Regions from separate parts of the Homo sapiens genome. Here region 2 is linked to region 1. Evidence: fine-mapped expression QTL. A gene starts in region 1. The other region holds a variant in brackets. All regions are shown on one strand. Distances are between the middles of the regions. Region 1 holds the start of GZMM (granzyme M). Region 2 holds the start of BSG (basigin (Ok blood group)).

Region 1 (4,380 bases):
CGGGCCCAGGGTGGGAGCGGCCGGCCCACCTGTCCCCTCGGGAGGGGAGCTGAGCCCGACTTCTACCGGGGTCCCCCAGCTTCCGGACTGGCCGCACCCCGGAGGAGCCACGGGGGCGCTGCTGGGAACGTGGGCGGGGGGCCGTTTCCTGACACTACCAGCCTGGGAGGCCCAGGTGTAGCGGTCCGAGGGGCCCGGTCCTGCCTGTCAGCTCCAGGTCCTGGAGCCACGTCCAGCACAGAGTGGACGGATTCACCGTGGCCGACTCTTTTCCCTGCTTTGGTTTGTTTGAAATCTAAATAAAACTACTTTATGAGAGGCCAGAGAAGCTGTGCTTGGGAGGGAGAGGCAGCCTCCACGTCCATGAGTGACTGCACACGGCCAGTCCCACTGGGACCCTGGCTACGCCAGGTGTGGATCTGGGAGGCCTGTCCTGGGAGGCACGGGGAGCAGCCGGGTCCCGCGGCCTGTACGTTCCCATGACTTGGGTCAGACAGGCCTGGGCAGCATCCCCCAGCCTGCGGGACAGGGGCGGCCAGAAAGCCCCCAGAGTTCCTCCTCCCTGTGACCAGGTGCATCTAGTGGGACGGGAGCTGCCTCTGCAGGCATCCAGCAAAGCTTCGTCGCGGGTCCACAGCCGCCTGGGCGTTGATCTCAGCGTCTCAGGGCTCCCAGGACCACAGATGCCCCCGATCAGCACTCCGGCGGCTCCAGCTCCGTCCAGGCACACCCTCGGGGTGGGGAGCCGTGGCCCTGGGCACACAGGGCAGGCACCTCACGTCCTGGTGTCAGGAAGTCCCCAGCATCGTTTTATTACATGTCATGGAGGAAAGCTCGGAGCTCCCATGCCCTCCCGGGGCACCGCCTTCCAGGAACCTGCCTGCGTTCCGCTTCTGGGCACCCGGAAAGTCGCTCAGTGGCTGATTCAGGGTCGAGGAGCTGTGAGGATGAGGTTTCCCACCAAGTTGGGACAGAAAATGGGGCCCTGGGGTCTCAGCAAACCATGGCCCTCGGGACCAAACCTGGCGTCCGCCCCTATTGTGAGTGAAGTGTTACTGGCACAGCCACACCCAGGTCTCAGGATCATCCATAGCTGCTTGGTTTGGTTTGGTTTTGTTTTTGAGACACAGTCTTGTGTTGCCCAGGCTGGAGTGCAGTGGTGCGATCTCGCCTCCTGGGTTCAAGTGATTCTCCTGCCTCAGCCTCCTGAGTAGCTGGGACTACAGGCTCCCACCACCATGCCCAGCTGATTTTTGTATTTTTAGTAGAGATGGGGTTTCACCATGTTGGCCAGGATGGTCTCGAACTCCCAACCTCAGGTGATCGCCCGCCTCGGCCTCCCAAAGTGCTGGGATTACAGGCGTGAGCCGCCGCGCCCGGCCTAAATTTATTTATTTTTGAGACAGGGTCTTGCTCTGTCACCCAGGCTGAAGAGCAGTGGTGCAATTACGGCTCACTGCAGCCCCAACCTGGGCTCAAGCGATCCTCCTGCCCCAGTCTCTCAAAGTGCTGGGATTACAGGTGTGAGCCACCGCCTTCGGCCAGTGTCTTTATTCATGAAGACCAAAAACTAGAACAGCGCAAATATCCGTCCGCTGGTGAATGCATAAACACAGCGTGGTCCAGCCACACAATGGGATGTGACACAGCCACAAAAAGGAGCGAGGCTCTGACACAGGCCACAGCCTGGATGCACCTTGAGGACGTCATGCTGGGAGAGACGCCAACGCAACAGGTCCTGTGTGATTCCACTCCTGGGAGGTCCCTAGAGACCAATTCAGAGGCAGGAAGTAGTGGCCGGGCGCGGTGGCTCATGCCTGTAATCCCAGCACTGGGAGGCCGAGGTGGGTGGATCACCTGAGGTCGGGAGTTTGAGACCAGCCTGGTCAACATGGTGAAACCTCGTCTCTACTAAGAATACGAAAATTAGCCGGGCGTGGTGGTGGGCACCTGTAGTCCCACTACTCGGGAGGCTGAGGCCGGAGTATGGCGTGAACCCGGGAGGCGGAGCTTGCAGTGAGCCGAGATCGCACCACCGCACTCCAGCCTGGGCGACAGAGCGAGACTCCATCTCTGAAAAAAAAAAAAAAAAAAAAGTGTTACTTTGTCAGGTGTGATGATGGTAGTGTGGCTTCATCTCGAGTCCTCTTTGAGAAACACTTTCTAAAATGCTCAAGGATGGAGGGTGGAGGGTGTGCAGCGGTGGGCGGGGCTGTGACCGTCACCTCACCTCCCCCACAGGAAGCGCGTGTGGGGAGGCTCGGGGCCGGGGCCAGCACCCACACTGGGTCTCCACAGCGGCATGGAGGCCTGCGTGTCTTCACTGCTGGTGCTGGCCCTGGGGGCCCTGTCAGTAGGTGAGTGGGAGCCGGGATGCAGGGGGGACACTGAGGCCCAGCGCTCTCGGTGGGTCCCTGGATGGGAGGGGTGGGCGCGGGCGCCGACATCCTGGGTGTAAGAGCGGAGATTCATCCTTGTTTGGAGGGGGACTGAGGCCTGGGGCATCCCGAGCTCCTCACGCTTCACCCCGAGTGGACATCCCGGGACCGTGGGAGAGTGTGGTGTCCACCGGCTCACCTCGCCCATCCTCCCGGCAGCAGCCAGAAGGCAGGGGTCACGCTCACACCCGAGGTGCAGAGTAGGAGACTGAGACTTGGCGAAGGAGATGCTGACCTAGGACTGCCCAGCTGGGAGGGCAGAGCTGGGACTCGATCCCCGCTGGCTGCCTGCCACCACCAAGGGCTTGGCTGGGACTAGGTGCCCAGCAGTGAGGGAGAAGGGAGGTGGGTGGCGGCTCCCCTGCATTCCAGCTGGACTGAGTGACAGGGGCTCTTGATGAGTTGGGGACCCAAGAAGATGGACAGAGGTAGGAATCCAGCCGTCAGTCATCATCATCCTTCCTCCCATTTTTATTTCCTTCCACCCATGGGTCCATCATCCCTCCCTCCCTCCCTCCCTCCCTCCCTCATCTCCCCTTCCTTCCCTCTACCCGTCCGTCCACCCATCATTCCTCCTTCCATTCTTCCACCCACCCATCCATCATCCATCCCTCTACCCATGGGTCCATCATCCATCCCTCCCTCCCTCCTTTCGTTCCCCCTTCCTTCCCTCCGCCAGTCCATCCACCCATCATTCCTCCTTCCTCCCATTCTTCCACCCACCCGTCCATCCATCATCCATCCCTCCTTTCAACCTCCCTCCTTCCCTCCACCCGTCATCCTTCCCTCCCTCCTTCCATGTATCCACCCATCCATCCATCATGCCTCTCTCTTCCTTTCCCCCCTCCTTCCCTCCTCCCTCCCATCCATCCATCATCCATTCCTCCTTCCATCCCTCCTTCCTTTCTCCCGTGCTTCTGTGTATCCATCCGTATTTGCAGGGCTCGTGCTGTTCTAGGCCTGCCCTCCTGTCTGACTGGAAGAGACAGGCCAGGCATGAGACTGTGCAGAGCGGAGGAAACACGGAGGGCAAGAGGGCGGGTGGGGGGCCGTTGCAGGAGACGAGCATAAACCAAGGGAGGAAGCCGGTGGGGGAAAGGTACGCAGGCAGCTAAGTGAGACAGACAAAGGCCCAGGGTGCAGGCAGCTTGCAGGCACAGCTAGACTTGCACTCTTGTCACCCAGGCTGGAGTGCGATGGTGCCATCTCGGCTCACTGCAGCCTCCGCCTCCTGGTTTCAAGCGATTCTCCTGCCTCAGCCTCCCGAGTAGCTGGGATTACAGGCGCCTGCCACCATGCCGGGCTAATTTTGTATTTTTAGTAGAGACAGGGTTTCCCCGTGTTGGTCAGGCTGGTCTCAAACTCCCAACCTCAGGTGATCCGCCTGCCTCGGCCTCCCAAAGCGCTGGGATTACAGGCGTGAGCCACCGCGCCCGGCCTATTTTTTTTTTTTAAGATGGAGTTCTGCTATTCTTGCCCAGGCTGGAGTGCAATGGCACGATCTCGGCTCACCACAACCTCTGCCTCCCGGGTTCAAGCGATTCTCCTGTCTCAGCCTCCCAAGTAGCTGAGATTACAGATGCCCGCCACCTCGCCCGGCTAATTTTTTGTATTTTTAGTAGAGACGGGGTTTCACCGTGTTAGCCAGGATGGTCTCGATCTCCTGACCTCGTGATCCACCTGCCTCGGCCTCCCAAAGTGCTGGGATTACAGGCGTGAGCCACCGCACCCGGCCTTAATTTCTGTATTTTTAGTACAGACGGGGTTTTACCACATTGGCCAGGCTGATCTCCAACTCCTGACCTCAGGCTGTCTGCCCACCTTGACCTCCCAAAGTGCTGGGATTATAGGCGTGAGCCACTGCACCGGCCCGCAAGCGGGGACTTGATTTTCAAAGCATGATGGGGATTCAGAGAAGATTTTGAGCTGATTTACGTTACAT
Region 2 (4,380 bases), 28 kb after region 1:
GGGGCATTTACGAAGTCAATATCCCTTCCTCCCGGTGGTCCTTCCCTAAAGGGGAAAAGGGCTGAGGCAGGTCTTTTTGAGCAGGAGGCAAAAGGAAAGTTCTGTGGGTTTTTGTTTGTTTGTTTGTTTTTTGAGACGGAGTCTCGCTCTTGTTGCCGAGGCTGGAGTGCGGTGGCGCGATCTCGGCTCACTGCAAGCTCCACCTCCCGGGTTCAAGACATTCCCTGCCTCAGCCTCCCGAGTAGCTGAGTAGCTGGAATTACAGGCGCCCGCCACCACGTCCGGCTAATTTTCGTATTTTTAGTAGAGGCGAGGTTTCATCATCGTGGCCAGGCTGCCAGTCCTGAACTCCTGGCCTCGTGATCCACCCGCCTCTGCCTCCCAAAGTGCTGGAATTACAGGCGTGAGCCACCGCGCCCGGCCGAAAGTTTCGAATATCCCTTTGGCATTGTTCTGTTTCCCGTTGGAGCTTTCCTGAGGAAGGGGCATGTTCTAGTGGCTGTCCAGCGGGGATGTGGGTGGCAAGGTCCAGGTGGTTCTATAGGGGAGGGATGGAGGGGCGGAGGAGCGGGTGGGGGAGGGGCGGAGGGGCGAGGGGTGGGTGGGAGGGGCGGAGGGGCGGGTTGGGGAGGGGCGGAGGGGTGGGGTGGGTGGGTGGGGGGGGCGGAGGGGTGGGTTGGGAGGGGCGGAGGGGGTGGGTTGGGAGGGGCGGAGGGGGTGGGTTGGGAGGGGCGGAGGGGGTGGGTTGGGAGGGGCGGAGGGGGTGGGTTGGGAGGGGCGGAGGGGTGAGTGGGGGAAGGTGGTCTAGAGGATCCCACCCTTCTTTAGATATGGGGCGTCTCTGCTAAAAATACAAAAATTAGCCGGGCGTGGTGGTGCGCGCCTGTAATCCCAGCTACTCAGGAGGCTGAGGCAGGAGAATCGCTTGAACCCGGGAGGCGGAGGTTGCAGAGAGTCGAGATCGCGCCGCTGCACTCCAGCCTGGGTGACACAGCGAGACTCCAACACACACACACACAAAAGATATGGCGCGTCTCATTCATTCACAAGTTCCTCTTCAAAGGTTTGGCTCGTTCAGCGCCCTCGTTCTTCGTTTCCTACTTCCAAGGCCAACCTGACTTCCTCACCCTCTGGGCCTCCCCGTCTGAGTCTCAGTAAACAAGTTTCCCGCCGGTCCTGATCTGCAGAGATGGCACCTGCCACCCACTCTGCACATCCCCCTCCCGTCGCCACGGGCTCTTCCCGCCAGTGTAGCCACATTCCTGCCCCTTTCCAGTTAGCCCTTCGCGTTCGGCTTAGTCTGCGGTCCTCTTGCATTGCGACTCCGAGTTTAACTTCCAACACACACTTTCAACCTCCAAGAGACGCCCCCACCTGTGTCGCCCCAATAGCGACTTTTCTCACCGTGGTCGCCGCGGAACTTCAAGGGTCCTTCCTACCCGCGTTGCTGAGAGTCTGGGTTTACGCGTCACCTCGGGCGGGACCCGATCCTCCGCTCCTGAGGCCCCCACAATGAAGCAGTCGGACGCGTCTCCCCAAGAAAGGTAACCGCCAGCCTCTCCTGAAACAGAATGGGATCCAAATGGGATATTTGGGGGCGGCGAGTCGGTCCCGCAAAGAGAAACCAGCACTTAGAAAATTTCTCAGCGAGACCACTTTACTTGTACGGAAGGGGGCTGCCTGCGTGGGATGCAATCTCCAGAGCACACGGGACAAAGGAAGGGAGCTTCTGTTCCTCTGTCCTTTCCCTGTTGGCTGGGGTTGGACGCCCACAATCTAAGCTGATCCCGGTTGGCTAAAACTTAAAACTTTTTTAAAATAGGGTAAACGCGCCACCTGCGAGGAAAGAAGAAGGGGGTAAGGTTGATTGACAACTTTAGACCTGGAAGTTGAGTTTCTGAAGAGGAACTTACTTGTCCCAACCAAATGGTGCACAGGACGTTTATACTAAGAAATTATTCATTTTCTGAGATCCAGATTCAAGTGCCCTTTAAGTATTTTTATTTGGGCGGAGGAGGTCACTTCCTCCCACCTAATTTATTAATACGTTCATATATATATATATATATGTACATTTTTAAAGGCAGAGATGTGCGTCTCGCCATGTTGCCGCGTCTGGTCTCGAGCTCCCGGGCTCAAGCGATCTTCCCGCCTCGACCTCCCAAGGCTCTGGGAGTACAGACGTGAGCCACAGCGGCCGGCCCGTGTTTAACTCAGATAAAATCTGGGTAACACACTTTCAACGCTTCAACCCCCTCGGGCGCACCGCTCTGCGCTCATT[G/C]CAACTTTGAAAGCAGGAAGGAAGAAATGCGCAGGCTCCAGCCGCGTCCCCGCAGGCCCCACTCCCGTTTCCTAGCAACGCCGGGTCACGTGCGCCGCCGCCCGGATTCCGTAGCGTGAGCCTGCCGGAGCCGGCGCGTACATGCGAGCGTGTGCGCGCGTGCGCAGGCGGGGCGACCGGCGTCCCCGGCGCTCGCCCCGCCCCCGAGATGACGCCGTGCGTGCGCGCGCCCGGTCCGCGCCTCCGCCGCTTTTTATAGCGGCCGCGGGCGGCGGCGGCAGCGGTTGGAGGTTGTAGGACCGGCGAGGAATAGGAATCATGGCGGCTGCGCTGTTCGTGCTGCTGGGATTCGCGCTGCTGGGCACCCACGGAGCCTCCGGGGCTGGTGAGGAGCGGGTAGGGGGCGGGGGTGCGGTCCTGCAGGGGCCGGGAATGGAGGCCGCGGTGCCGACCCGAAGCCGACGGGAGCCTGGGGCCTCGGCGCGGGGCGGCCTGGGGTGCGAAAGGCCGGCCCCGGGGGCTTCCCGCGCCAGCATGGAGCTTGGGGGTGAAGTCCCAGGGTTTGAGGGGGGACTAGAGGTTCCTCCCGGCGCGGCCTGCCGGGCTCCCCCGGGCGCTCCGGCCTCGAGCCCGGCCTCTGTGTGTGGGCGTGAAGCTCCCTGCTTGGAGGCGGGAGCCAGGGGGTCCTGGCCAGGCCGGTCTTGGTCAGGGGAGGTGGGCGTCTTGCTTTTCGGTCACCTGGGGTTGGGGGTGACCTGCTTCCTGGGTGAGGGCGTCTGCGAAGGCGGTTGGAGGTGGCCCGCCCGCCGGTCCCATCGGCCAGGAGAAGGGAGACCCAAAGCCTGGGTGAGCGTCCCCTTTGGCCTGGAGCCAGGGGTCAGGGGCTGGTTGGTGCCTGCCCAACCCGTCCTGCTGGGGCTGGACTCCGCAGGACCTGGGGAAAGCGGCCTGGGCGTGGAATCTGGAGACGGGTCCACCCTGCCTGCGAGTGTTAGGGTCAGAGACCCTCCCCTGAGACTCTCTGGGGCCCCCGCAAGGGCCCGTGCGGCCTGGAGCGATCATCTTGGCGCTCCCTTCTGGAAAAGGGGCTTTTGTCCTCCAAGAGCACATGGAGGCTCTGAGTGGGTCAGCCCTCCGGATCGGGAAGGGATTACCGTTCTTCACGGGATTTAGCCCTGGCGTCTTGCCTAGGGCGTGCACCTGCCCCCGGGTGTTCTCCCAGACTCTTAAGACCTCGCAGGCTCCCTCGAGGGGCCCTGCGTGGAAGGGAAGGCGGAATCTCCCTCTGATTCTGCCTGGATTCAGCACCCAGAATGAGGTGGTCTCTGAACGCCCCTCCTCCTTTACAGGCGAGGAAACAGCCCTGTGGGAAGTCGAGGTTCCAAGGTCACAGTGAGGGGGCCCTGGCCACCCGATTCAGCGCAGGAAATAGTGAGAAAGTCGTTTTTAGCCGACTCTGACCCGCATTCGGTTTCCAGTGCTGTCTTAGGAGGGCCGTGTGTTGAGGGTGGGCAAACGTGGTTTGGAGAGCGCATTTGGGAAATGGATTGAGGTGTGTTTTTCCGGGAGAAAAGCATGACATCCTTTCTTGCTTCATAGAAAATTTCTTCCTTTGTTGAGACCCCCATTTGGTTCTGGGTTAAAGATTTATAGTGAGGCCGGGCGTGGTGGCTCACACCTGTAATCCCAGCACTTTGGGAGGCTGAGGCGGGTGGATCACCTGAGGTCAGGAGTTCAAGACCAGCCTGGCCAACATGGTGAAACCCCATCTCTACTAAAAATACAAAAATTAGCTGGGCGTGTTGGCGCACGCCTGTAATCCCAGCCACTCAGGAAGCTGAGGCAAGAGAATCGCTTGAACCTGGGAGGTGAAGGTTGCAGTGAGCTGATATCATGCCACTGCACTCCAGCCTGGGTAACAGGGAGACTCTGTCTTTAAAAAAAAAAAAAAAAGAGGTCGGGCATGGTGGCTCACGCCTGTAATCCCAGCACTTTGGGAGGCCGAGGCGGGCGGATCACGAGGTCAAGAGATCAAGACCATCGTGGCTAACACGGTGAAACCCCGTCTCTACTAAAAATACAAAAAATTAGCCTGGCGT

What was found.
Region 2: its variant is fine-mapped to the expression of GZMM in whole blood (INTERVAL, PIP 0.97).

Annotation. Positions count from the first base shown.
Region 1 is chr19:541,770-546,149 of GRCh38, forward strand. It overlaps GZMM (granzyme M), which reads left to right and starts at 2,284. Exons shown (of 5, transcript NM_005317.4): 1 at 2,284-2,357. The coding sequence starts at 2,303. CDC34 (cell division cycle 34, ubiquitin conjugating enzyme) reads left to right here. Exons shown (of 5, transcript NM_004359.2): 5 at 1-318. RefSeq lists an enhancer at 1,652-2,297.
Region 2 is chr19:570,036-574,415 of GRCh38, forward strand. It overlaps BSG (basigin (Ok blood group)), which reads left to right and starts at 2,561. Exons shown (of 9, transcript NM_001728.4): 1 at 2,561-2,666. The coding sequence starts at 2,600. It overlaps BSG-AS1 (BSG antisense RNA 1), which reads right to left and starts at 2,213. Exons shown (of 3, transcript NR_184018.1): 1 at 2,074-2,213; 2 at 1,405-1,561. RefSeq lists enhancers at 809-1,381, 1,462-1,511 and silencers at 2,332-2,551, 2,722-2,901. The variant G/C (reference allele first, on the strand shown) is at 2,282.